Linked DNA regions of Homo sapiens: all the other regions are linked to region 3. The links come from fine-mapping of genetic effects on gene expression. A gene starts in region 3. Each other region holds a variant in brackets. All regions are shown on one strand. Distances are from middle to middle.

The links. PIP is the estimated chance that this variant, and not a neighbour inherited with it, causes the effect.
Region 1: its variant is the best candidate, but not a certain one, in a credible set for the expression of MYO1D in whole blood (TOPMed, PIP 0.86).
Region 2: its variant is the best candidate, but not a certain one, in a credible set for the expression of MYO1D in tibial artery (GTEx, PIP 0.60).

Annotation. Positions count from the first base shown.
Region 1 is chr17:32,811,778-32,819,957 of GRCh38, forward strand. The region is part of intron 1 of MYO1D (myosin ID); the gene reads right to left. Among named protein-coding and RNA genes, the nearest start is that of MYO1D-DT, 61 kb to the right of the region's middle. The variant C/A (reference allele first, on the strand shown) is at 3,381.
Region 2 is chr17:32,488,953-32,497,132 of GRCh38, forward strand. It overlaps CDK5R1 (cyclin dependent kinase 5 regulatory subunit 1), which reads left to right. Exons shown (of 2, transcript NM_003885.3): 2 at 1-2,301. It overlaps MYO1D (myosin ID), which reads right to left. Exons shown (of 22, transcript NM_015194.3): 22 at 3,570-5,963. The coding sequence ends at 5,807. LOC124903982 (a long non-coding RNA gene) reads left to right here and starts at 6,496. Exons shown (of 2, transcript XR_007065716.1): 1 at 6,496-7,339. RefSeq lists silencers at 1,330-1,451, 4,175-4,224 and an enhancer at 2,480-2,599. The variant T/G (reference allele first, on the strand shown) is at 4,536.
Region 3 is chr17:32,872,859-32,881,038 of GRCh38, forward strand. It overlaps MYO1D (myosin ID), which reads right to left and starts at 4,266. Exons shown (of 22, transcript NM_015194.3): 1 at 3,920-4,266. The coding sequence starts at 4,014. MYO1D-DT (MYO1D divergent transcript) reads left to right here and starts at 3,997. Exons shown (of 4, transcript NR_184086.1): 1 at 3,997-4,035; 2 at 4,986-5,103; 3 at 5,442-5,777. RefSeq lists silencers at 3,602-4,591, 3,798-3,985.

The sequences.
Region 1 (8,180 bases), 61 kb before region 3:
GTCATTGATGAGATTAGGAAGCTTTTCTTGGATCTGAGTAAAGATGTGGGGCAATCCTTTTTGAAAGCTGTCATATGCACGTGTTGCCTGAGTTTTCATCTTGAGTTGAGGAGAGCCAGTCTAAAAGGACAAGTCAAAATGCTGAGGAAATGGAAGGCACCTGGGTCCTTGAAAACATAACTGAGCAACTGAATTATCCAACCCAGGACCCATTCTACTACTACACTTCTTGTTATGGGAGAGAAATAACTTTCCTTGTAGTTTGTCACTTTTATTTGGGTTTTTCTATTACTACTTGTAGCCAACACATTCTGCTATAAAAAGAGATAAGCTTGCCTTAATAGGGAAGTTGATAAGTTTAGTTTTGAATTCTGAGTTTGAGTTTACTTTTCCAAATGGAAACAAGATCAAAGGATGGATGAGAGGACAGGAGTGCAGAAATTCAAGAATTGGTACAGAAGGGATATTGAGGGCTACACAGAAGTGGCTGAAGTCATCAGGTATGATTATGACTCAAAATGGCAAACAATTATTCAGTGTTTTTTATGTGCTAGGCACAATTTCAAATGTACTACAAGAATTATCTCTTTTATTCTCACAGTTCTAAGAGTTTCTCTTCCTATTTTACATATGGTAAAAAATGAGGACAAGAGAGGTCTAGTAACTTGCAAAAGGTTACAAAGGTCAGGGGTGATAGAGCCACAGTTCAAACCCAGCAGTCTGACAGCAGAGTAAATGCTCTTAACTCTTTATGTTGTGTTACCTACACTTAAGTTAGAGGAAGTCAGGATGAAACATGAGAGTAATAAGCCTTCCAAGTGAGGGAACTGGAGAGACAAGTAGAGTACCAGGTCAAGGGAAGGAGTACTGACCTTGAGATATAGCCTGTGGGGTTCTGGGTAGGACAACGGAGAGGACTGCAGAAGTTCCAGCAGACACTGGGCACCAACTTCACCTGCTGCACAGTTTTGCTTAGAAACAGCAGCATGTTATAACACATTCAGCTTCCTTGCCTTAACAAAGCACTAAGTCACTTACAAATAGGAAAATAATATTTATTGAGTACCTACAAAATGCCAAGCACTAGACTAGGTAGAGACTTTATATGTATAGGCCATTTAATTCTCACAATCACCTTAACCATAATGGCGACATTAACTTTTCATGAACAATTTTGCCAAGCAAATATAACTTATACACATGGAGTCATCCACACCCATCATCCAATCCATTGGCAAATCTTGTTAGTTCAATCTTCAACAACTATCCAGCATTCAATCATTTCTCCTATAAACGGTCTTCACTGATGATTTCCCAATATGTGAAAAGATACTCTGGCACTGACTTCAGTCTCTTCTTTATTATATCCTCAAATATCACTCTACAGACAAGTCTGAAAAAAGACTAGGTTCTTACACAACCTATTACTCATTCATCTAACAAATATTTTTTGTGCTAAGCAATACGCCAAGGGCTTAGATACAATGGTGATCAACATAACTATGGTCTGTGTTCCTCCAGACAGCCCAGTAGGGGATGCAGACAAGTAAAAGGAAAATGTAACAAAGGAGCTATTAGAGGAAATGCAGGGAGATATATTACAGTACAAATGAAAGGCAGTTAACCCAGACCTCAAGGACCGAGAAGGTGATCCCAGAAGTAACATCTAAGTTGAAAACTAAAGAATGGGTAGGAATTATTGAGGCGATGGGGTGGAGGAGGAGGAGTGGGAAAGAGTAGTGTGCCACATGGAGATCTCAGCAGGAACAGAGGCTGAGAGGCTTCAGAAAGAAAAAAGCATGTTTAAAGGATGGAAAGAAGTTCAGTAAGCCTGGAGCACAAGGCACAGAAAGGACAGTAACAGTAAAGGAAAGGAAAACTAGAGAAAAGAGAGGAGAATTAATTGCTGATGATGCAAGGGCCTTCCAAGTCATGTTAAGAAGTTCTGGCTACAGCATGGAAGTCTTAAGACTGGAGCTATGGAGACCAGTTAAGAGACAGCTGCGTCCATGGGATGCTTGATAGAAACCTACACTAGAGCATGGTGGTAGTCACACTCAAAAGATATTTAGGAGACTCAATTGACCTCATCTGGTGATTGATCAGATGGGAGTGGAGATGGTGAGGACAGACATGAATCAAGAATAACTAGATTTCTGCCATGGGCATTAGGTGGAAGGTTTAATACAAACTAGCTTTCACATGTTGGTAACTTTCTCGAGGCAGCAACACTTTTTAGAAAAGTGACCTGCCAGAGTTCAGGTCAGCCATCTAAAAAACACTTCTTGCCAGGAGTGGTGGCTCATGTCTGTAATCCCAGCACTCTGGGAGGCCGAGGTGGGCAGATCATGAGGTCAAGAGATCGAGACCATCCTGGTCAACATGGTAAAACCCTGTCTCCACTAAAATTACAAAAAATAGCTGGGTGTGGTGGTGTGCACCTGTAGTCCCAGCTACTCGGAAGGCTGAGGCAGGAGAATCACCTGAACCCGGGAGGCGGAGGTTGCAGTGAGCTGAGATCCCACAACTGCACTCCAGCCTGGCGACAGAGCAAGACTCCGTCTCAAGAAAACAAAAACAAAAACAAAAAACACTTCTGTGTTAACATTCTAAATTTATCCCTTCTTTTTTTCCTACTGCACTTATAAATAAGAGTAAATGCTCAATGAATTTGTAAGCACAGAAACCATATAAATGACCTTATAAAACGGTGTGAGAGGAAGAAGGATAATGAAGGGCCTCCTTAATCAGAGTAGCCATTTGTTGGCTGTTAAAAGAAGAGACATATAATTTGGAGTAATGAAAGCAAGAGAAAGAATTAGCAGACTGTTTTAAATGAAAACATGTCTCTTCTAAGCACGATGCATTACAAATAAGACAAATTAATCATTGTTGAAAATTTAAATATTCACACTGGAATTGCTGTATCATCTATTAGAAGTTGCCTAGAATAATGCTAATTGCAATTACAGATAAACTCCAAACTTTCAGTGGCTTTACACAAGAAGTTGATTTATTACCCATACATTAGTCCAATACAAACGTTTCTGTGGGGAGGGAGTAGGCCTTTGCTCCATGCAACTGTTCAGTGACATGTCCGACAAAAACGCTTCCATCTTCAACACATGACTTCAAGTTACGCTGCGCATCAACAGCCAGCCAACAAAAGTGGCAGAGAATGGAGAATCACTTGCGGGAGGCTTTTATGAGTTAGACCTAGAAGTGTCTAGACCTCAGAAATTCCACCAATGAGTACTCTGTCACATGACACGTAACTGCAAGGGAGGATGTGCCTCCAAAGAACAGGAAACACATTTTGCTGAATAATTAGCAGTCTGTTATGGATGGTAAAATACTGAAGACAAGATATATGACTTACT[C/A]ACCTTTGCAGAGCTTAACAATATCTTGAAGAAAATAGGCGCTCAAGGCTCAAATATAATTCTGTTGAAAAAATACTTAATGAAAAAATTATCTCATAAGAGATCCATTTTGCTACATAAACTACTGCTAAAATACATAAACTGTAGGAAAAAAGATTTTCCAGCTCTTGACTTATAGAAGTTGCCCATTTCAACCTGGATTTTCCTTATTTACCAGGAAGACACCAAAAATATTGTGGTAGAAGAAATCATTCCAAACTTGTGGCTCAAGAATTGTGAGAACTATCTCTAAAGTATGGAAAAATATCAATGATAATGACTTAAATATTTTAAATTTTCATGTTAGTTCTTATTCTCTTAACTTTTTTAAAAGCATAGTTATTATGCTTAAGTCCAATCCTGGTCAGGCAGCCCTCTTCCCTCTCGTAGATTTGCCAATGAGAACAGGAGGCCTAAAGAGCACACGCTTTGGCAAAAGAAACAAACAAGAAAGCATGCTGGCTCTGAATTCCCTTGGCCTCAAAGTGACACATCACTCTGTGCAGAGTTCATTGGCCAATACCACAGGTTAGTCCTGTGGTCCCCACCTAACTGCAAGCTAGGTAGGAAATGTTGAGAAGGACAAGGTAAGTGATTACCGTCTCTGCCACACCTGTATAGACCACAAGCCCCAGTTTCTAGGTACATTTTCCTATGTAAATTTCGGGGTTGTATTCTCTCATACAAATTAGTTTCTTGTAAGTTTGTTTACTAGTATCAATAACTGAGAATCAAGAGGATAAAATTAAACTTCTGGGCTTATAAACAAATCCTTTATCCATGGTAACCTAGTAGCAACTAACTGATCTGAAAACCAGTGGGAAGTAGCCAGTTGATTCTTCTCAATATCTCTCAGCTACAATATCCTAAACAAGGAATCCATTCATCTATCAGTCAATAAATATTTATTGAGAATGTCTGTGGGTCTAGTGTGATGTTTAACACTGCATTAAGCGTCTGGGAGTGAAAAGGGCACATTTGGTTCCTGCCCTGATCAAACTTAGAGTCAAGTGAGGAACACAGTTTTAAAAAATTATCAACAATCATATTATTACAATCCAGACAAACAAGAGATATAGGAAGAGGTCACAGTGCTAACACTGTATTAAACATGAGACCTGACCAGGTTAGGAAAGGCTTCACTGAGACAAACGCAGGGCCCAGAAGGATACATAAGGGTTAGGCAGCTAAAGAGAGAAGGTTAATGTCCTAGACCAAGGGAAAGGTTGGAAACTTAGTCCAATGTTATTTACTTTTCGTCTTAAACTTTGAAATCATTTTAATAATTATTTTGGTTTCTCTCCACCTGATTGCTGTAGTACTATTAAAACTGAATTTTAAATAATTCTGTTTGATTCTAAACAGTCAAGTTTGCAATAGATTGCCATGTTTTAACAATATCTTCAAATTCTAGGCAAGGGAAAAAACATTTGCATATAATTTTTCTCTAAACATATTTATACTATGTATTTACAATTAGTAAATCCTGAGTTACTTCATTGTTTTTATATTAAGTGGTCTAAATCTAATAAATGGATGCACTCACCTCAACTGCAGATATTATGAAAAATTCCTGGATGTAGCATAAGTATGAGTTTAAAATTCAACATCAAAACCTTAATCCATTTTCATCACACACACAGGATTTAGTCTTTCTTCCAATATAATACAGTCCCTTTTTGAATTTTTTTAAATAATAAAAAAATTAGTGTTTTTAACTAAAGAAAAAGATGACAAGCGGTAAGAAATGCCACAGAATAAAAAGTTTTTGGTGAGGAAAAATTATGTAACTTAGGCAAGTAACTACTTGTACCTCAAATTTCTATTTAATGAGGTACTAGATGTATTGCTATAAATAAAATAAAAATAGTAATTATCTGCTAGCTACTTCACAGTGATTTTTAAATTTTTTTGTAGATACAGGGTCATGATATGTTGCCCAGGTTGGTCTTGAACTCCTGGCCTCAAGTGATTCTCCCACCTCGGCCTCTCAAAGTGTTAGGATTATAGGCATGAGCCACCATGCCTGGCTAACAGTAATGTTACAAGAATACATTAGCAATCTACAAATTTTATGCATTTCTAAAAAGATATGAAGACTGAAGACTGAAGACTGAAGCTTCTTTATGTTGCTGAGTAACAGGAAAACAACCACCAGATTATTTAATGGTTTAGCAACAAAAAACTTGGAACAAGAACATATTTGTACCTCTCTTAATTACAGTAATAAAATGCATATACATTCTATGCCTTTTGAAGGTAATATTTTACACTCATAAAATGACTGCAGTTTAAAAACTGGTTTTGTCAGCTAAACACAGGAGTTACCATTTTCAAGGAAAGTAATCCTTCCCAGCTATAAAAGCCTATACATTTATGACTTGTTTTCAGTTCAAAAACTCAAAATTAACCAAAATAAAAGGATCCAGTAGAGGTTGATGTTCCTCTTTCTTTGCTTTTTCTCTAAACTGTTTTCAAGTAGTATAGTAATAGCCAACACTCACTGAGCGTTACCATGCCAGGCACTGAGCTAAGTGGTTTACGTGCATTATCACATTTAATCTTCACAACAACCCTATATGGTATGCACTTTTAAAGAAATATCTTACTTTCCAGATAAAGAAATGGAGACTTTAAGAGGTAGTAGGGGCCGGGCGCGGTGGCTCACGCCTGTAATCCCAGCACTTTGGGAGGCCGAGGCGGGCGGATCACGAGGTCAGGAGATCGAGACCATCCCGGCTAAAACGGTGAAACCCCGTCTCTACTAAAAATACAAAAAATTAGCCGGGCGTAGTGGCGGGCGCCTGTAGTCCCAGCTACTTGGGAGGCTGAGGCAGGAGAATGGCGTGAACCCGGGAGGCGGAGCTTGCAGTGAGCCGAGATCCCGCCACTGCACTCCAGCCTGGGCGACAGAGCGAGACTCCGTCTCAAAAAAAAAAAAAAAAAAAAGAGGTAGTAGGTTCTTGCCCTACAAGTATTGTGAAAGAGTTGAGATTCACCTAAGCAGTCTACTTCTAGAGCCAGTGCTTTTAACCACACCTCTATCCTGCAAATAGTCTGTAAACAAGTCTTAGTGATGCTTCTGTTCAAACTGTGGATCGCTGCTGCCCCTGCAGTCTCTGACCATTCTTCCCAGCAATGCTGAGCTGTGGTCCCATGTGAAGGCCTCATTATGGAAGGAGGGTTGGCTAAGTATCCAATAGTAGCTCCAGCCCAGTGGGAAGGTACCACCACTTGAGATGACACTGCAACGGAGGCAGATGCTCGATGGACACATTCAAGACCCATTCGGCTCAAGGATCAAAAAAATGGGGCTTGCAAGTTCCCATTCTTCTTTTCTAGAAGAGCTGCTGAGAGAGAGACCAATGGGGGAAATAAAGTGAAAGCCTCACTCTTCTCTAGCCTAAGTTTTAGAGTCCAGTGAAGCATTGCAGCATAGGCTTTGTAGTCAGAAAACCCTGAGATCAAATCCTGGTTCTACCACTTGCTATAGCGATCTTGGGCAAGGGGTCAGATCTCTCTAAGCCTGTTTCCTCATCTGTAAGGAAGGGTATTATATCACATAAGGTTACTGTGAGGACTAAATTAGACTAAGTATGCAATAGGATACCAGGGTCCAGTTTTCTTTGGATGTAATGGGCCTGGAAAATTCCTTAAAATCCTTTTCACCTACAAAATCTTATGAAGTTCTGCCTCATTTTCTGCTTAAAAACTTTAAAAAATTAATAGAAATAAAAGAGAATTCTACTAGAGAGATAGGTTGACGTTACTTCTTCCTTGCTTTTTCCTTAAAGTGGAATGTTAAAAACTAGGATATGCCTGGAAAGTGTTCTATCTACAAAAAAGGAAGTTAGCAGCCGCTGAAAAGTAACTACAGATGGCTATTCACTTTACTCTGAAAGCATTTGCTGTTGATATAATCACACCACAGGAAAACATCATAATGTTGGCTGAAAGAAATCTGAAATGACACAGCAATAATGCTTCATCATGTAGAAGTTGGTTTCAAGTTTTTTTTTTTTTTTCGGTCTGGATAGTGTGATTGCAAGAAGGGAGGCTATGCTAGCTTGGTTATAAGCAGGGAAGTTGGCTGTGAGGAGATAAACAGAGATCTCACAGGAATTCTGGGGTAGAAATCACTGGACCGGAACTGAAGGGCTATCTCCCAGCTTCTGCTTCTGCCTTTTCATTCAGTCCATTCCCCTCCGTTTACTCAACAGTTCCCTCTGCTTTGGTGGCAGTTTCTGCTCCTTCTCAAGGCTGACTTGCACATGGCTCTGACTTGCTGTGGCCTCCTCTCCATCATTCTCTGCATCAGGTGCTTTCAACCTTGATTTTATTGTTTATATATACTTATGAACTTTTCTGCAGGGAATGTCCATACTTTCATCAGATGCTTCAGGAAAGCAATGACCCCAAAAAGGAATAAAAACCACTGTTCTATCTCATGACACTCTACCTTTAGTTTCTACTAGTAACTCTTTTAGTTATTCAGTTTCTTAATTCCAAATTCCTACCAGAATAATAATAATGGCTACCATTTATGAAGCTTTGAGTATGAGCCAGATACTGTTCTAAGGACTTAACTATTTTTAATTCTCAAAACCACATTATATAGGATCTAATATTACAGAGAAGGAAACTGAGGCATAGTGAACTTTGGGTAACCTGCTTAAGGTTACACAACTAGCAAGTGGCTAAGTCGGAATTTCAATCTAGACAACATGCATAGTACTTAAAACTGACTGAGTTAAACTTTGC
Region 2 (8,180 bases), 380 kb before region 3:
GTTATTCACTCTCCCAGAGGCTCCTGGAGCCAGCCACCCTAACTGAGCTGCCAGTGGGGTCGTGAGGCAAGATCCCCGCCACCCGGGGACATCTTCAATCTAGGCGAGGCGAAGCTGAGCGGGTCTAGTGGAAAGATTGTGTCTGGTCGTTTGACCACACACCGCCCTGATTTGCTGTTTTCTTTTTTTAGGGAGAAGGGCTTTTCTTTAGTGGAGAAATGGAACTCGCCCCCCTACCCCCTTGTCTGCTGCTCCCAGCCACGTTGGTGGTATTGGCCGATGAGCTGGTTTGACTCATTAATTTCTCTCAATTTGGGTCCCAGCTAAAGAGGTGGGGTGAAGCTGGGGACAGCTTTCCTGGGTGAGTTTTTCTTTTGAATAATGTAGTGCAGTCACCCTGTGGCAAATGCCAGGACAGCTGCAGGTGCCCATTAGCAACGCCTGCCTTCTGGGCAAGGTGAGGGATGCCATACCTTGAGACCAAGCCGGTGCCCACCTAAGGGCTAAGGCCTCTTGCTGGTGCACATGACATTTGTCCTGCAGAGCTGGGGGGAAGGCGATGTGGTGACCCCACCCCCACCCGTTAATTTAAAGCTGTTTCTAAACAGTTGAGTTTCTTCTAAAGAGGAAGCCTTGCCCAGCAAGGACCAGTGAGACAGCCGGATCTTGGAGACAATTACAAGACGGGGAGTGAGACTCCTGATTGCTCTGGAAGCCTGCTGATTTCTACAACTGATCATTTGCAGCTGCTGGTTTTGGTTTCCACCTTACCCTACTGGCTGTAAAAACACAAATGTGTACTTTATTGATTTTCTTTCTAATTCTCCCGCATTGGTGGCTTGGGACTTGGGAGAGGGAGCAAGCCTTCCTCCATGGCCCATCACTCGGCTGTGGAGAACAAAGACCAATGTGAAGACACTACAGAGGATTCTGTCTTCCAGGCCCAGTCCACTGGGGAGTGCTGGAATGGGGACCTGGGGTGGGGAGGCAGAGGGTCACTTTACATAGGATTAAGTTCGAGGTGGCTACCGATTTCAGCACATGCACTACTGAAATTTACACAAAAAGAAAGCTGTGAAATTGAAGTCCCAATTTAAGAGTCCTGAGGCAGAACCTGGTGGCTGGAGGCATTCCCAGAGGTGGGGAAGAGAGCCTGCCCGGCCGGAGAACATCTGCCTTGCTGCACCTGAGGCCCAGCAGAGCCGTTCCTGGGACTGTCAGATAATCGGTGCAGCGGTGGAAGGAGCCTGCGGCTGCTGGCACAGACTTCACACAGCACCTCCTCTCTGCTGGGTTTCCACACAGCCTGTCTTCAGATCCTGCTGCCGCGTGCGACCAGAGGTGGGAGGCCCCTGGTGGCATGGAAGAGGGAGGGTCAGTGCCAAGTCTCAGGAGGAGGGCGCATGTGTGTATCACCCTCAGCTGGCGGAACCTGGCTGCGAACTGTGCAGTTACGTTGCATCCACAGGATTCCAGTTGCGTGTCTGTTTCCTTCTCTTTCTCCGTATTTATTTTTTTATTCTTCGGAGGAGGTGGACATTTCGGAAGTGGTGGGGACTAAGGGAAGAACTCTCTAGTTCCCTCAGTGTGAAGCCTGTCGTGTTCTCTCCCCTTGCACTGGTCATCAGTATTGTGTAAAGGAACAACTGATATACTTGAGTGTGCAAGCAAAGAACCCATTTGCCATGCTGCTATGAAGACTACTTTTAGATCAACAATAAAAAAAAACCTACAAAAAAACCTTTATTCTTTAATTGTTGCTTTTACGGTGATATTGTGCATGCAAACCAGGAGCATTTTGTGTCTTAAGAAAAATAATCTTAGAACAGATGGCTGTGAAAATTACACCCATGCACAGAACAAGCCACAGGAATAATAGTTCAGGATTTGGTTTTTCTCTTTTTCTTGTAAACCTGGAGGGTTGATATATTCTTTCCATGCAGTTATTAGAACTTAGTTTTGTTCCAACAGTTAAACTTGCAATGAAAAGAAAATGTGCCATTTTTTTCACTCAGAATTATTCATAGCTGTATATTTGAAACTGCTAATTACACACGTGTGATGTATGTTGGTTTTTTAGTGCAATTTCTTCTGTAGCTATTCTTTGACCAAACTGTGGGTATTGTTAATATTAATTTATATTTGTCTCATTTTGTATGTATGTGTAGTGTGTTTGTGAGTATGTGTGGTTTATAATCTGACAAAGTCATGAAGCTCAGTTTGGCTGTAATTTAATTCCCCTTCCCTTATTTTTATTTATTTTTGTACTGTGCTGATTCAATAAAATGCACTGACCATCCATTACAGAGACCTCTTTTTGTGGGCAGGCTGGGGCCCCCTTTACTAAATGATTCATGCACTCAGAACATAATTGGATTTGTGTTATTGGGGAGGGGAGGACAGAGTTGGGGGCGAGGGCTTAACACACTAAGGTGATTAAGAAGGAAGCACAGGTTAAGTCAGCTTTGGTTTAGCGTCGGCCGAGGTGAGGGCAGCTGTTTCCCAAAGGCTCCCGTGGCAGAGCTGGGTGACTGGAACCTCCGGCCAAGGAGGGTCAGGCCCAAGCATGGCCTGGTGAGGTCTGGCCGGGTGGGTCCTGCAGGGGCTCTGGACCCTAGACTCCCTGTGTCGAGGTGTGACTCTGAAGCTGCTGCTCCCACGTATTCTTGGGCTTGGCTCTGCTCTGTGCTCCCTTCCCCCGGGGTCTCCCAGGCCAGCAGGGGTGGGCTGGCGTCCACATGGGCCAACCCTGCAGGTTTAGCTCCATGCGGGTTTCCAGGAGGGAGAAATCCAGCCCTGTGGCTCCCAGGGAAGCAGCCACTCCAGCCCATAATTGCGGCAAGGGTGGGGTTCCTACCAGCTCTATCTGTACCTGTCCTGACTGCCAGCCTGAGGCCTGCACGTGCCACCAGCGTCAGCCTCAGGAAGAGGGTTATGGGGATGCTGGATGTGGCCCTCCCCAGGCCCTGCACCCTGCGGTCTGAAGCTGCTCCTGAGTACTAGGAAAGTCTTTCTTGTCCTCAAGTTGTAGCTTGGGAGCTGTCAGCCTTGTGATCAAGGCCACTTGCTTTCCACAAAGCAACTGCCTTCGTCTGAGTTACAGAAGCCACCGCTGCGTGTTCTTTTCTGCCAATGACCAGTGACCGGAAGCACCCTGGCTGCAGGACCCTTGGGTGCTGGCCATGCCCTGTTGCTCCCTCAGGGCCTTGCTCCCTTCCCCAGGAGGAGCTGCTGCTTCCTCTCACTCTCCCTGCCGCCCCCACACTTCCTCCCAGCACCTTTCACTCCGCTGGCCTGGCCTGTCCCCAGTCTGCTGCTGTAGGTCTCTGAGCCTTTCCTTTCTACATACGTGCTTCTATTGCAGTAAACATATTCCCTGGCACTAAGCAGTGTGCTTCCAGCTGCCAGCGCACAGGCCTCAAGATGGCAGGAGAAAGTGCTGGGACTCAACCCCACGGCCTCCTTCCCTCCTCACACCTCCGGTCCACAGCTTGCTTCTTGCTCACTTTTTGTTCAAAAGCCTCAGGCAAATCATCCTCCATTTTACATGATTTGTGCTTAATTCTCCCTTCTATCCTCCCAGATAATGGTTGACTTTATTTAAGCAAAAATTTCACCAAGTTTTCAGTGACAGATAAGCAGAACACCTTTAAAAATAAGATTTAATGCTTTATTGCTCTTGATGGCAAATCAAAATATGCTTTAGAAATAAAGTTAATTTACTGGAAAATAGGAGTTTTTGCACCAAACCATAAAATTGCATTTCATTACATCAAGAGAACCCCCTCATTGTCTACAATCATGCCCGCTTCCTTTCCCCTCAGCGCCCGGGACACGTGACCGAGATCATACCCTAAATTCCTGATCCTTTTGCAGTTGCCACATACTGTGGCTTTTAGTACATCATAAAAAAGTGCTTGTCCTGTGGCCTCAGCTGGGAGGCCCTGGCGCTGGGGCTAAGGGGCCCAAGGCACCATCCAAAGGCTGGGAGGAAAGAACCCAAACCCAGGCCCTCCTCCTGCCCTCCAGCCTTTGACAGGCAACTCATTTGGCATGATCTGTTTTGGTGTGTTTAAAACATACATTTGCATGTGTCTAGTGTAAAGCAACAAGTTTGAGGAAATAAGTGGAAGGAGAGAGGAAGTTCCAGTTAGATGGTTCCACTAGTGTCTACTGGTAATTGGCAAAACTATGAGTGTTGCTAATCTGGGCTGAGGGCACCTCTGCCTGTGCAGGCAGCTGACCAGGCTTGGAGAATGAGAAAGGGTTCCCAAGGACAGGATGCCAGCGGGATTCTTTGTTGCAAACTGCACACAGTGCAATTTTTGGGAAGCAGGGATGGGGAGTGGGCATGAGACCGGGTTGTTGGGACCACTCTGGGGTCAGGCCCTGGGTGAGGCACAGGAGGCTGCACACAGGCACTTGGTGGGTTCTGCCGGGTCAGGGTGGGAAGGCAGGAGAAGTGTCTGTGGCAGGACGGGAAGAAGCTTCAGTACATCCCTCTCTTGCACCTCTGCCCACTCCACCTGAGGCGT[T/G]GGCTCCCTCCCCCTCATCCTCTCACCACATGCCTGAGGCGTAGGCTCCCCTCATCCTCTCACCGCATGGGGCATTTGCTCCCAGCCTCTACTTCCCTCAAGGCCTTCTCAGCAGCTGGGGCTCAGTGGGGAAGGTGGTCTCAGAAGGCCCCTGAAGCATACGTGCTTTTGCTGGGCAGAAACTGGCAAGCTGGCAGTGCTCCCTGGCACCAGTTTCACGGGCGCAGGCCCCAAGGGGCCGTGTAGAGGGCGGGGTGGGCATCCTGGCCTGGCCTGCAGTGCCAGGACCCCACGCTGTGCTGCTGCCCCGCTTCCTGCTTCCCGTCATCCCGTGTCTTGACCCCGCCCTTGCTGTTTCTCTGAGTAGGAAACGCAGCGGGAGGTGGTCCAGAGGGAAAGCGGCCGACCCTGAGGGCTGCCCTCACCCTGGCAGCTCCCCGTTCTCATTAGGGTTCCTGACCCAAGTGTGGTGACAGCAGGTATCTGATTAGCAACCCTGCAAACGGTGAAAGTATCTATAAGAGGACCACAGCCACAGGCTGCGAGTTAAGTAAGATGATCCTTGGAGCATGCCACACTGTCCTCTCCAGAGCGGTGGTCAGAGGCCCTGGTGGGGGCCTTGGTGGCAAAGGGAGTCTCCCAGGGGAGAACCTGGGAAGGATGGACTCACTCTGCTGGATGGGCTGTTCCGCTCCTGCCACTGGCTCCTGGCTGAGGGGCTGGCCCTGTGGGTGACTCTGCTCACCCAGTGGCTTTGGCTGGCGGCTGGGAGTTGGGTTGGGGTGGGTCCGCCGAACTCTGAGCAGAGCCTCCCTGAGCTGGGTCCCCAGGGCTGGCTCACCTTGGGCAAGAGAGGTGGCTATGGGGCTCCCGCAGAGTGGGGTCCTGCATCCCCACCCCTTCCCTCTGCAGGGTCAGCAGCAGGGAGGACACCTGTCCAGGTGCTCTGACTTGACCTGGCCACGGGGCATCCGCACCAACTAAAGGCACCATCCAGTTGCCTCTGGGGTGAGATTGGTCTGGACGTCAGCCCAGGGGTCTGGGCGGGGCACCAGGGTCTTTGGCTTATTGAACAGGGACCGTGGACAGTAAGGACAGAGGAAGATGATACCAAAGGCAGAAAACCAGGAAGGAAATCTTACAGGGGCGGGGCTCCTCTGGGAGGGGCCCTCGCAGCAGGTTTCTAGCGGGCATGGGTTGGGAGGCAGCAGCTGGACTGGGACCCAGGACTCGGAGTGTGGCCGGGCTCCGGGCCAGGCCTCCGCGGGGCGTCAGTTCCCGGGCACGCTGAGGATGAAGCCCGAGCGATTCTTGGTGAAGTCGGGCTGGGGCTGGTTGAGCCGCGTCTCCACGGAGACGGTGCACTTCTTCCCGTGCAGGCTGCACTGTACTGGGTTGGTGACGTTCACTTGAAGGTGGCGCTTCTCACTGCAGGAACCAAAAACACCAGACGGGCAGTTAGCAGGCAGCATGAGAACAGGGCACCTGCCCGGCAGCTCCCGGCCACCATTGGCTCCGGCGCAGCCTGCTTCCTCCACAAGTGCCAGGAGGATGCCTGAAGGGCCCCAGAGAGGCCGAGGCAAGGCGAGTGTGGCACTAGCTGGGCCTCCAACCACAGCCTCGGCACCATGGCAGGGCCCTTGGCTCCCATGCCAGCGCATGGGACTGGACAGTGGAGGGCCATGTGGTTGAACAGACGCCACCAGGTCTCTGGCTGGGGCTGAGGACCAAGCCCCTGGGTCCTTCGGTGTACCAGGGCTGGGGTTCTGACTCTGACACTAATCCATCCTGCGGGAGACCCGTGCCACATGCCCCAGTGAGAGAGAGAGAGAGAGATGTCTCCTGCTCCTGGCTGGTCCCTGCCTGTCACACCCCGGCTGGTGGAAGTGGGCCTGACTTGGGTTTCCCCAAGCGAGAGGCTGCTCTCATCTGGAGCTGGGCCGCTTGGCTGGTTGCCACCCTGGAGGCTGCAGAACAGTGCAGCCGGTGCCCCACCGGGGGCTGCAGGGAACCCTGTGCAGCAGGAAGCCCCGCTGGCCTGGGAGCACATGAAGGCGGCTTCAGCCGGGCGTCCGGCCGGGCTCCAGGTCGGGTGCAGAGGCGGAAGCTGTGCTCTTCCTGCTGGACAGAGCCCGAGCCCGAGCCCTTCCTCCAGCTCCTCACACGACGCTGAACATGCTAAGAAGCTGCTGCTGGTTTTAAAAGCAGAGACACTTGTCGCGATAGGCTGGCACCCCAATGTTTGCTCACACAGGCAGCACAATCCCACGCTGTACCTCAGCTTGTGCCTTGTCAGCTCTGAGCTGGGAGGGGAGAGGAGAAAGGAGGAAGCCTCCTGACCTCGGAGCCTCCAGTCAGGACTGGCTGGCTCTGCTCCGTATGCCGAAAGCCCTGGGAATTTTTCACTGCTCTCGGGATGGCGTCTGGGGCGTGGGCAGGTTGGTCCCGCTTTGAACGCTCTGCTGGACTTACGGAGCTGCTCTTAGTGCTGGGCAGTGAACGCCAAGCTGTCGTGTCCACACGGCCAGGGGAACGCCAGGGCCAAGGCCAGCATGCGCTGAGCTTCTGCCCAGCCTGGAGTCGCCTTCACCAGGCCATGAGCACGTGAGGCACTTTCTAAGCACTGGTTGCCCGGGAGGCGCAACTGCTCAGACGCCGAGGCAGCTCAAAGGGCTCCGACGTGCGGTGGCTCCACGGGGTCAGCGTGCCCAGAGTAATGGGTGTCACTAGAGCACCTGGCCCAGCACACGCTTTCTGAGGACACCTGGTGGGCGCGCCCCACAGCAGGCCCCAAAGTTTCAGAGGTAAGTGCGGGGTGCTCAGGGGCTCTCCTCATGGCTGTCTCCCCCCTGCTTTCTCACGGACACAGGAAGAGACCCCGGTTGTCACTTGTGGGCATTACGTATCTAATACTTAATGTCTTGTCAGCTGCAGCTAAAACCTGAGCTTAGACAGCTATTTTTAACCAGACTTGGACATAAAAATAGCAGAGCCCAGCAGAGGCCGTGACTCAGGCCCTCTTCTACTCTTGTGGGCACCAGGGCCGCTCTGCAGGGCTCATGTGCAGCCCTTGGCGGCGGGGTCCAGGTGGGGCCCCTGCAGCCCTCGTGCTGGACCAGATGCCTCCAGGACCAGGCTGGTCCCTGAGCTGGGGTGGCCTCCCTGCCTCCCCTCTGTCAACCTGGTATGGCGTTGGGTCCCTCTCACTGGACTCTTGTCCTCTGGGAGCCTCCCTCCTGACCCTGGCAGCGGCCTCCCCCTGCTCGCCCTCCTGGAGGGCCTGTGCCCTTCCCTGTGCAGGGAGTCCAGACTCTGCCCTCGCCCTTCCCTGGGGAACTGCATGTACACAGTGGGTTCCAGAATCACCTGGTGACTCAGTCTGAGGGAATGGGCTCTAAACAGGCCACGCTCCACGTCAGCTCAAAAAAATTAAGAGACAGAAAATGGGAACCATTAGTTCACCCTCACCCTCTCGTGTTCAGACAATCGGGGCATGCTCCTCCGTGCAGGGCTCTCCTGACTCCCGCTCAGCAGGGTGGCCCCTGCCTCCACCCTCCCTGCTTCCTCTGGGCTCCGTGTATCTCCAGGATATGCTCTACAGCCTTGATGCCGGGGTTCGGGCTGGTGGGAAAATGGGGAGGAGCA
Region 3 (8,180 bases):
GCTAATTTTTTGTATTTTTAGTAGAGACAGGGTTTCACCTTGTTAGCCAGGATGGTCTGGATCTCCTGACCTCATGATCCACCTGCCTCGGCCTCCCAAAGTGCTGGGATTACAGGCGTGAGCCACCGCGCCCGGCCTAGGTCAATTTTTAAAAGTAAAAATGGTAGGAGAAAGTTGCATCAATTGTGGCAGTTGTCTAAAAATCAAGCTTTAGCTCCAAGAGGGAAAAAGAAGGCCAGATTAATAGCAAAACAAGAAGATAATTCTAAAAGGACAATGCCACATAAGCTTTTAAAAAAAAAAGTAACAAGCATTTTTCCCTCTCTACAAAAAAATGTTGTCATGAAGGAATGTACTCTGTACCCAGCATTATGCTAGGTGCTGCTGTTGAGAAAACACAGACCCATGAAGCACCTGCAGCCTTGAGTGCTTGACTATTACATGACTTAAAGGAAGGAAGCAGGCCTTGCAGAAGAGCCAGGTGGGAAGGGAGGACAGGACATTCCAGACTGGGGAGTAAGAGCAGGAACTACAGCTTGGGAGGGCAGGAGTCATGAGGTACAAGCACACATGGGAATTTCACTCACACATCCATATATACCAATGGACCAAACACGCTCAATTTCAGCTATATACAACCAGAAATATGTGCCCAACCACCAATATTCCAGGAGACAAAAACACTTCAACATCACAGAACAGCACCTGGATTACGCAGTGGTGGGTTTCTGGTCACCTTCTGCAAAGTGAAAGGAAAGAGAGGACTGTTTTCTGTCTGGGTCAGAATTTATAGTTTCAGAGGAGGGTAAGGGTGCTACCCTTTGCTGGCACTGTGTTTATGGCTACAGGGAACCAACTATTTTAATGTATAAGTAAGTCATGAACAATCACTGATCTGTACAATGAGAACCACAGCCAGTTCTCAGAGTCATCAAGGACACACAGATGAGATACATACAAATACATATACATCTGTACACCCAGGATTTTGAATGATGTGGAGATTGGGTATAAAGGTAGACCTAAAAACCTGGGCCTTAGCCAATGGCCATATGGAGAGCTGGTGATTCCTCCCACCTCTCCACAACACCAACCCCTTCCCTTCCAAACAACTTAACTTATTCACTGTCACCCAGAGTCAGCTTTCATGCCGCCAACCCCTGCTCATGCTGCTTAATCCACCTGGAATGCTCTCCAGCCACGAGTCCACCTTTACAAATCCTACCCATCCTTTGGAACTCAGCTCAACTCCTCTCTTCCTCTATAAGGTGTTTTGGAGTCAACCTAAGGTATCTCTCTCTCTTCTGAACTTCCAGAACAATTTCTATAATTACTTGACAAATAATCACCTAAGCTTTATAAGGCTTTTATCTTCTCTTTCTTTTCCTTTCTTTTTTTCTTTTCTCTCCTTCCTTCCCTTCCTTCCTCTTTATCTGTCTCTGTCTCTCTCTCTCTCTTTGTGTCTCTGTCTCTCTCTGTTTTCTTTCTTCTTTTTCTTCTAAGAGACAGGGTCGTGCTCTATTACACAGGCTGGAGTACAGTGGTGTGATCATAGCTCACGGCAGCTTTGAACTCCTGGGCTCAAGCAATCCTTCTGTCTCAGCCTCCTGATGTTGTTTTCTTGAACTATTCTTTAAATCAATAGAAAATTCCACCTTTCTCCAGGTCTTCATTGAGATGTCACCTCTTCGAGAGGTAAGCAGCACATCTTGTAGTTCTTTGGATACTCCTAGCTTATCTCCTAGAGTACCTTGCACACAGTAGAATTAAATTGCAGCATTCGGCCGGGCATGGTGGCTCACACCTATAATCCTAGTGCTTTGGGAGGCCAAGATGGGAGGATTGCTTGAGGCCAGGAATTCAAGAACAGTCTGCTCAACATAGCAACTCTAAGGGCCCATCTCTAAAAAATATAAATATAAATATAAATAAATTGCAGCATTCTCTTCTGTACACATAGGAGTTGTTAGGCTCACCTTAGTAATCTATTTTGAGATTCAAACTTCACACTTAAGAGACTTAATGCTTTAAAAAAAAAAGCAGAAATTCTAAGTGCCTTCCCTCAATTTACTTTTTAAAAACCACAAGAGTTTTAATTCTATTACAGAGGAGTAGTCCTACAAACTAATGTAGCCCTGTTAGACTCTATGCCTTCAATTTCAAATTCTGAAAATTCTGCAAAAGCTCTGGCTAAGCCCATGTATTTGCTGGAGGTGAAAGATGGAGGTTAAAATGAAAGGCTTCATATTCAACTGTTACTACATGGTCTTGTATACAGTATGTACATAATAAATGTACCAATGTCTGAAAAACTGAAATGATTATAACTGAGAGTGACAAAATTATAAAGGCATTTCTCAAAGCACACAACTTATTTCCTGTGGGGGAGAGGAGTAGAATCTCTTAATTTAAAACAACCTTAATCTATGAAATTGCTATGTAACTTACCCCTTTATCTATTTTATGTGCACTTGGGAAAACTTAAAACAGTTTTACTAATATGGATTTGCCAGGCACTAATCTTTGAAGTATGTATACACATATTATTAATAATTCATTTAACCCTCAGGACAACCCCAATCCTACAGACGGGAAGACTGAGGCACAGAGAGGTTAAGTAACTTGCTCAAAGATCACAGCAAGAATGCAGTGGAACTAGAATTTGAATCTCAACAGTCTGACTCTTAATCACTATGATAATGGGTATTGGTTATAGCTGATGTAGAGGTATATCATTTTGATTAATATTTGGGGTGATTTCTATAAAAGTTGTACATCCAAACCTTGATCAGAAATGTAACATCCTATCATTATGCTGGTATGTAATCAACCTGATTGACCCCTGTCAACTGGATTGACAGGGGTAGTTAATAATGAAATTAGGGTTAAGCACCCAAGCCTAGATTATGACTTTCACTTTATAAGCTTAAGGAATGATGTTTAGCTATAAACCTTAGAAGAAATGCAGCCAAAGCTTGCAGGGAAACATACACACGCACACCAAAACTCAGCTATTTTGAAATTCCACTTACTTTAATGTTTAAGTCAAACTACTTTAAAACTGTTTACATATTACTCTATCAAGGGTGAAATAATCGCATGTAAAGGGCTTTCTAAAACAAATCCACATCTTGGAAGCCCATTTTGGGGCGTTGAGTTGTGACTACGTTCTCAAGGATGTTAATAACACAAGAGCTCCATCCACTAACTCCTTGAAAAAAACCAAAACCATGAACGTCTTGTCAAATTCAGACAGTTTATCTTGGCACTGGCAAGTACAGCAGTCTCTTCGATGTCTGGAAACGTGTCTAATTACGTTTAGAGAGTAACTAAAAAAATAGCCAGTGTCCCGGAACAGACAGCTCAGGGATCACTCCATAGCATCCTGAATGACAGGATGGAACTACGCCAGGAGGAAAAAAAAAAGAAGGGCGAAGAAAGAAAGAAAAGAAGCAAGTGTAAAGCCGGGATGAGACGCCAGCCTCTCTCCAAAATAATCCTCCAGTCCTCCTAGGGCCTTCGGGGCCACCGCAACTCTCGTTCAAGTTATTTCCCTTCAGTTTCCATGAGGTCACCGGCCCGCCCACATCCCTCACCTGGCGCGGGGAAGCGCGCCCTCCCGCGCGGCACACCCTCTGCACCTAAACCCCGGACAGCGCCCAGGGCTCCCCTCTCAGGGAAGCGCGGCCCTTGAGCTCGACACGCCCCCCGCACCCCAAAGCGGCCGCACCCCAGGGGCGTCCGCTCTCGGGAAAGCGCAGCCGCGGAGCTTGGCAGACCCCCGGACACCGCAGCCCGGCCGCGCCTCCATCCCTGGAGCTTGGGCGCTCCCGACACCCCGGATCCGGCCGCGCCCCGAGGCGCCCCCTCTCGGGAAAGCGCAGCCTCGCGCCCCTGCGCGCGGCCGCTCCGCCCTCACCTGAGCCTGAGGTTGGCCATGAACTCGGGCATGGAGACGGTGTCCATCAGCACGAAGTCTGCCTTGCCGAATTCCAGGCTCTCCTGCTCCGCCATGGCGCCAGCGCGGGGGCTCAGGTGGGCGCGCTCGGGCCTCCGGGGCCGCTCCGTGGGCCCGCGATGAGCTCGGGAGGGGCCGGGGCGAGGCCGCGCCGCGAGGCTACGGGGAGGGGGCGCGCACGCCGCTCGGCGGGTCCGGGCCGGACAGAGGCCGCCTCGCTGCTCCTCGGCGCCTTCTCGGCCGGCGCGGCTCCGAACGGGACGCACCCGACAGTTTCCGCTCCTCCCGCCGCGGCTGCCGGGCGCTGTAGGGGCCGGGACACCGAGACGGAGACGGCAGCGGCTGGTCCCGCCTCCAGCCTGGGGCTCGTCCCGGCTCCGCCCCGCCCGGGCCTCCCGGCTCCGCCCCTCCCGGCCCACTGAGGAGCCCGCCCCAGCCGCGGCCCTGGCCGCCGCCTCTTCACCTGGGCGGCGCGCACGCGCGGGTGGGCGGCGGGGACGCGCGCTGGGCCGGGCGGCGGCAGCTGGGTGGCAGCGCCCCCTGGGGACAGGCGCTGGGATCTCAGGCGGCCAAGAGGATGGCCGCCTGCCGCCCACACTTGGTAGCTGCCAACAAAGTTAGAAAAGTAGTTCGTGGAGCTTTTCGCGAGGACAATTCATTATGATTCTGTCACCCTGCTCCAAAACCCACTCCCGCCTCTCTACTCACACCCTGCCCATTCTTGAAGTGGTGGTTCAAGCACAGACTGAGAGGTAATAATAATGGCTAACATTTTTGGGGCACCAAAAATGCCCAGAGCTGTTCTCAGCGCCTTAGAGAACTTTTAAGAAACTTGCCATACGACTAGGAAGTGGAGCAGCTGCGGTTTCACGCAGGTCATTTGACTTAGGAGCCGCAGCGTTCAACCACGTCTGACTACCTCCATTCTTCAGTGGCCCATTTTCTCTTCCACTCATCCGAGCATGTCATCAGACATTACCTTATATGATTATTAAGTTTTTAATATATCTTTGTATCATCTCTCCAGGATTATTGCGGATGTCTTGAGCATGGGACCATTCTTTTTGCATCCACCAAATAACTATTGTACTACTTTGCATATATAAATATGAAATCCATACTGGTTCAGTGGAATGAAGTGAGTTGTAAGTAGTCTCCAATTTATTGATACATTGGTTGAGCTTGGAAAATTCTTTTTGAACTCAATGTATTTTCCCAAAGAAAATATACTACAAATGACTTTCTTTCTTTTTTTTTTTTTTTTCTTTTTCTGGAGACAAATTCTCCCTCTGTCACCCAGGCTGGAGTGCAGTGGTGCAATCACAGCTCACTGCAACCTCAAACTCCTGGGCTCAAGCAATCCTCCAGCCTCAGCCTCCTGAGCAGCTGGGACTACAGGTGTATGACACCATGCCCAGCTATTTTTTTTAAATAAATGACTTTCTAAGGTATCTACATTTATTCAGTCCTGTGTTTCTGTTAGGACATCTTCTATTACAAAATCTACGAGGAAATCTAGAGGCCTCCAAGGACCTGGCTGGGCTTCAACTCTGGCTGAGTTTGAGATGAGTAAACCAGACTGAAGGACCTTGCCCAAGGCCTGCTTCAGCTGCCAGCCACCCACACTTGCTAAGAGAAAGGAAAGGAGCTTTGTCACCTCCTGAGGGACTGCCTCTGCCATCAGAAAACCACCCCAATCCCTGGCACCAGCAGAGCTGGGTTGCATCTGACTACCGTTAGCAGCTGTCCTTCAGAAGGAGGAGATCCACCTGTCTCGATATCAGTGTCCTCATTTGTGGAATAAAAGCTCTGGAATAAGGTAGGACTGTCCTATGGTTGGGTCATTTGTGGAGGTGTCGGTCAGTGGCTAAGTAGGTTATTGCATAGGGTATGGTTGTATTCCTAATGTTTGTATTGGCATGTTTTAACATAAGCAGAACTGAACTTCAAGAAGGAAAGAAAGAAATCTCAAACTGTATGCACTTTGGAGCATCCAGGGACCACACCCCAAAACCTTTTGGTAAATTATATATGTGTGTTCCCTGAGCTCTGTAGGTGTTAAAAATTAGGGCAAAATCCCAGGTACCAGGAAAAGAAACATCACGGCTTGCAGATGATGAGAGAGTTGCAGAAATTGTACAGTGGTTAGGAGCTATGGTGGGATACAATGTGGTTTCCAAATGGCCAAAGTAAGAGATCCTCATTTTAATCAACATCTTATATAGGAACCCAACATATAAAACACATATACAACATATGCAAAGGGTATTTTATTAATTTCTTGTATAAGTCCAAATTAGTATAAAATTAGGCATTGATGCTCTCATGATGAACCCAAATCTGCTCAATGGGGCTCACTATTAGCCTCAGGATTCCAGTTTACTTTTGTATGTTGTTTTCATTGTACTGTGTCAAGCAAATTCTTGTTTGTATAACTAAGCAGTAATTTGTTACCCATACAACTTTACATTCAGCATTTCTAGGCCAATGTGCAGTTACAACATTATTAATCAATGACACACTTGAGCAAAGTTCAGGTATATGCACAGCCGGCAGGAGAGACTGAATACTCTGGTCTGCATTCAGTCAAGGTAACCTAGAGCAGATTAGCTCATTATGAATGTTCTTTGTGATAAAATTTGAATAGAAACACATTTGGAGATGCATGTTTTTGTTACAGTTTAAAATATACAAAAAATAAAACAAATAAAAGTTTATATCCCCAATCATGAGACACACAGACACCATGAGCCTCCTGATATGGTCTCCTGAAAAAGACACATATCATTTACCTGCTAAAAATACGTAAATGGAATCTAATCATGAAGAAGCATCAAACAAACTCACATTAAGGGGCATCCTACAAAACAATTGACCTGTATTCTTCAAAAATATCAATGATGTGAAAGACAAAGAGGCTGAGGCACATCACTATTAAAGGCAATGGGTGATTCTGGACTGGATCTCCAACCAGAAAAATGTAAAGGACATTGTTGGGATAATTGGTGAAATTCAAATATAGACGCGATGTTAGATAGTAGGATAGTATCAATGCTAGTTTTTCTGAACTTGATCATTTTACTGGGATTCTGCAAGATAATGTCCTTGTTTCTAGCAGGTATCTGCTAAAGTATTTAGGAGTAAAATGATGTCTCGAACTGTTTGGCAAGAATAATAAAAATAATAAGATGAGGAGGTGGAAGGAGGGCGTGCATATATATTGGTAGACATATAAATGATTAAAGCAAATGATGCAAAATACTAACAAGTGGTAAAGTCATTAAAAATATATGGGACTTTTGAGGGGATTTTCTTTTGTACTATCCTCACAACTTTTCTGTAACTTTGCAATTAGTTTGAAATTTATTCATTTATTTTGAGACGGAGTCTTGCTCTGCCGCCCAGGCTGAAGTGCAGTGACACGATCTCGGCTCACTGCAACCTCCGCCTCCCGGGTTCAAGCGAGTCTCCTGCCTCAGCCTCCTGAGTAGCTGGGACTACAGGTGCATGCCACCATGCCCAGCTAATTTTTGTATTTTTAGTAGAAACGGGGTTTCACCATGTTGGTCAGGCTGGTCTCAAGCTCCTGACCTCATGATCTGCCCACCTCAGCCTCCCAAAGTGCTGGGATTAGAGGTGTGAGCCACCACACTCGGCCTGAAATTTAAACTTAAAAATTAAATAGTAATCTAAAACTGTGCTAAATAAAAATTTTTAATTTAAAAATATTAAATAACACTTAGAAATCAAAGTCACATCAGAATTTTGCAAACCTTCCAGAACTGAAGAACCAGCAGATATTTTTGAAAACCCTGGTCCAGGGTACCTCTTAGCTCTATTTGGCATAGATGTGCTAGGAGATTATAAACACTGAACAGGTAATTCTAAAAACAAAAATAATTAGATGTCAAATATACCCATATGCCCCTGAGAAGGTGCATCCTGTTCTCTGCCTGAAGTTCTCCCCGCCACCCCACCCCTCACTCCTATGACCTAGCTAACTTCCGCTCATCCCTCCGCTCTCAGTCTCAACATCACTTCCTCCAAGAAGGCTTCCATAATCTCCTGAGTCAGAATTGGCTGTTCCTCCTCTGTGCCTCCTGCAGCATCCTGGAAGTGCTGCCCCCATTACAGTACTAAATGCCCTTGAGCCTACTGTCTGTCTCTCTCACTCGTTTGTAAGGGCCATGAGGGCTGGAAGCTGTCTTTTCTGGTTTTTGAT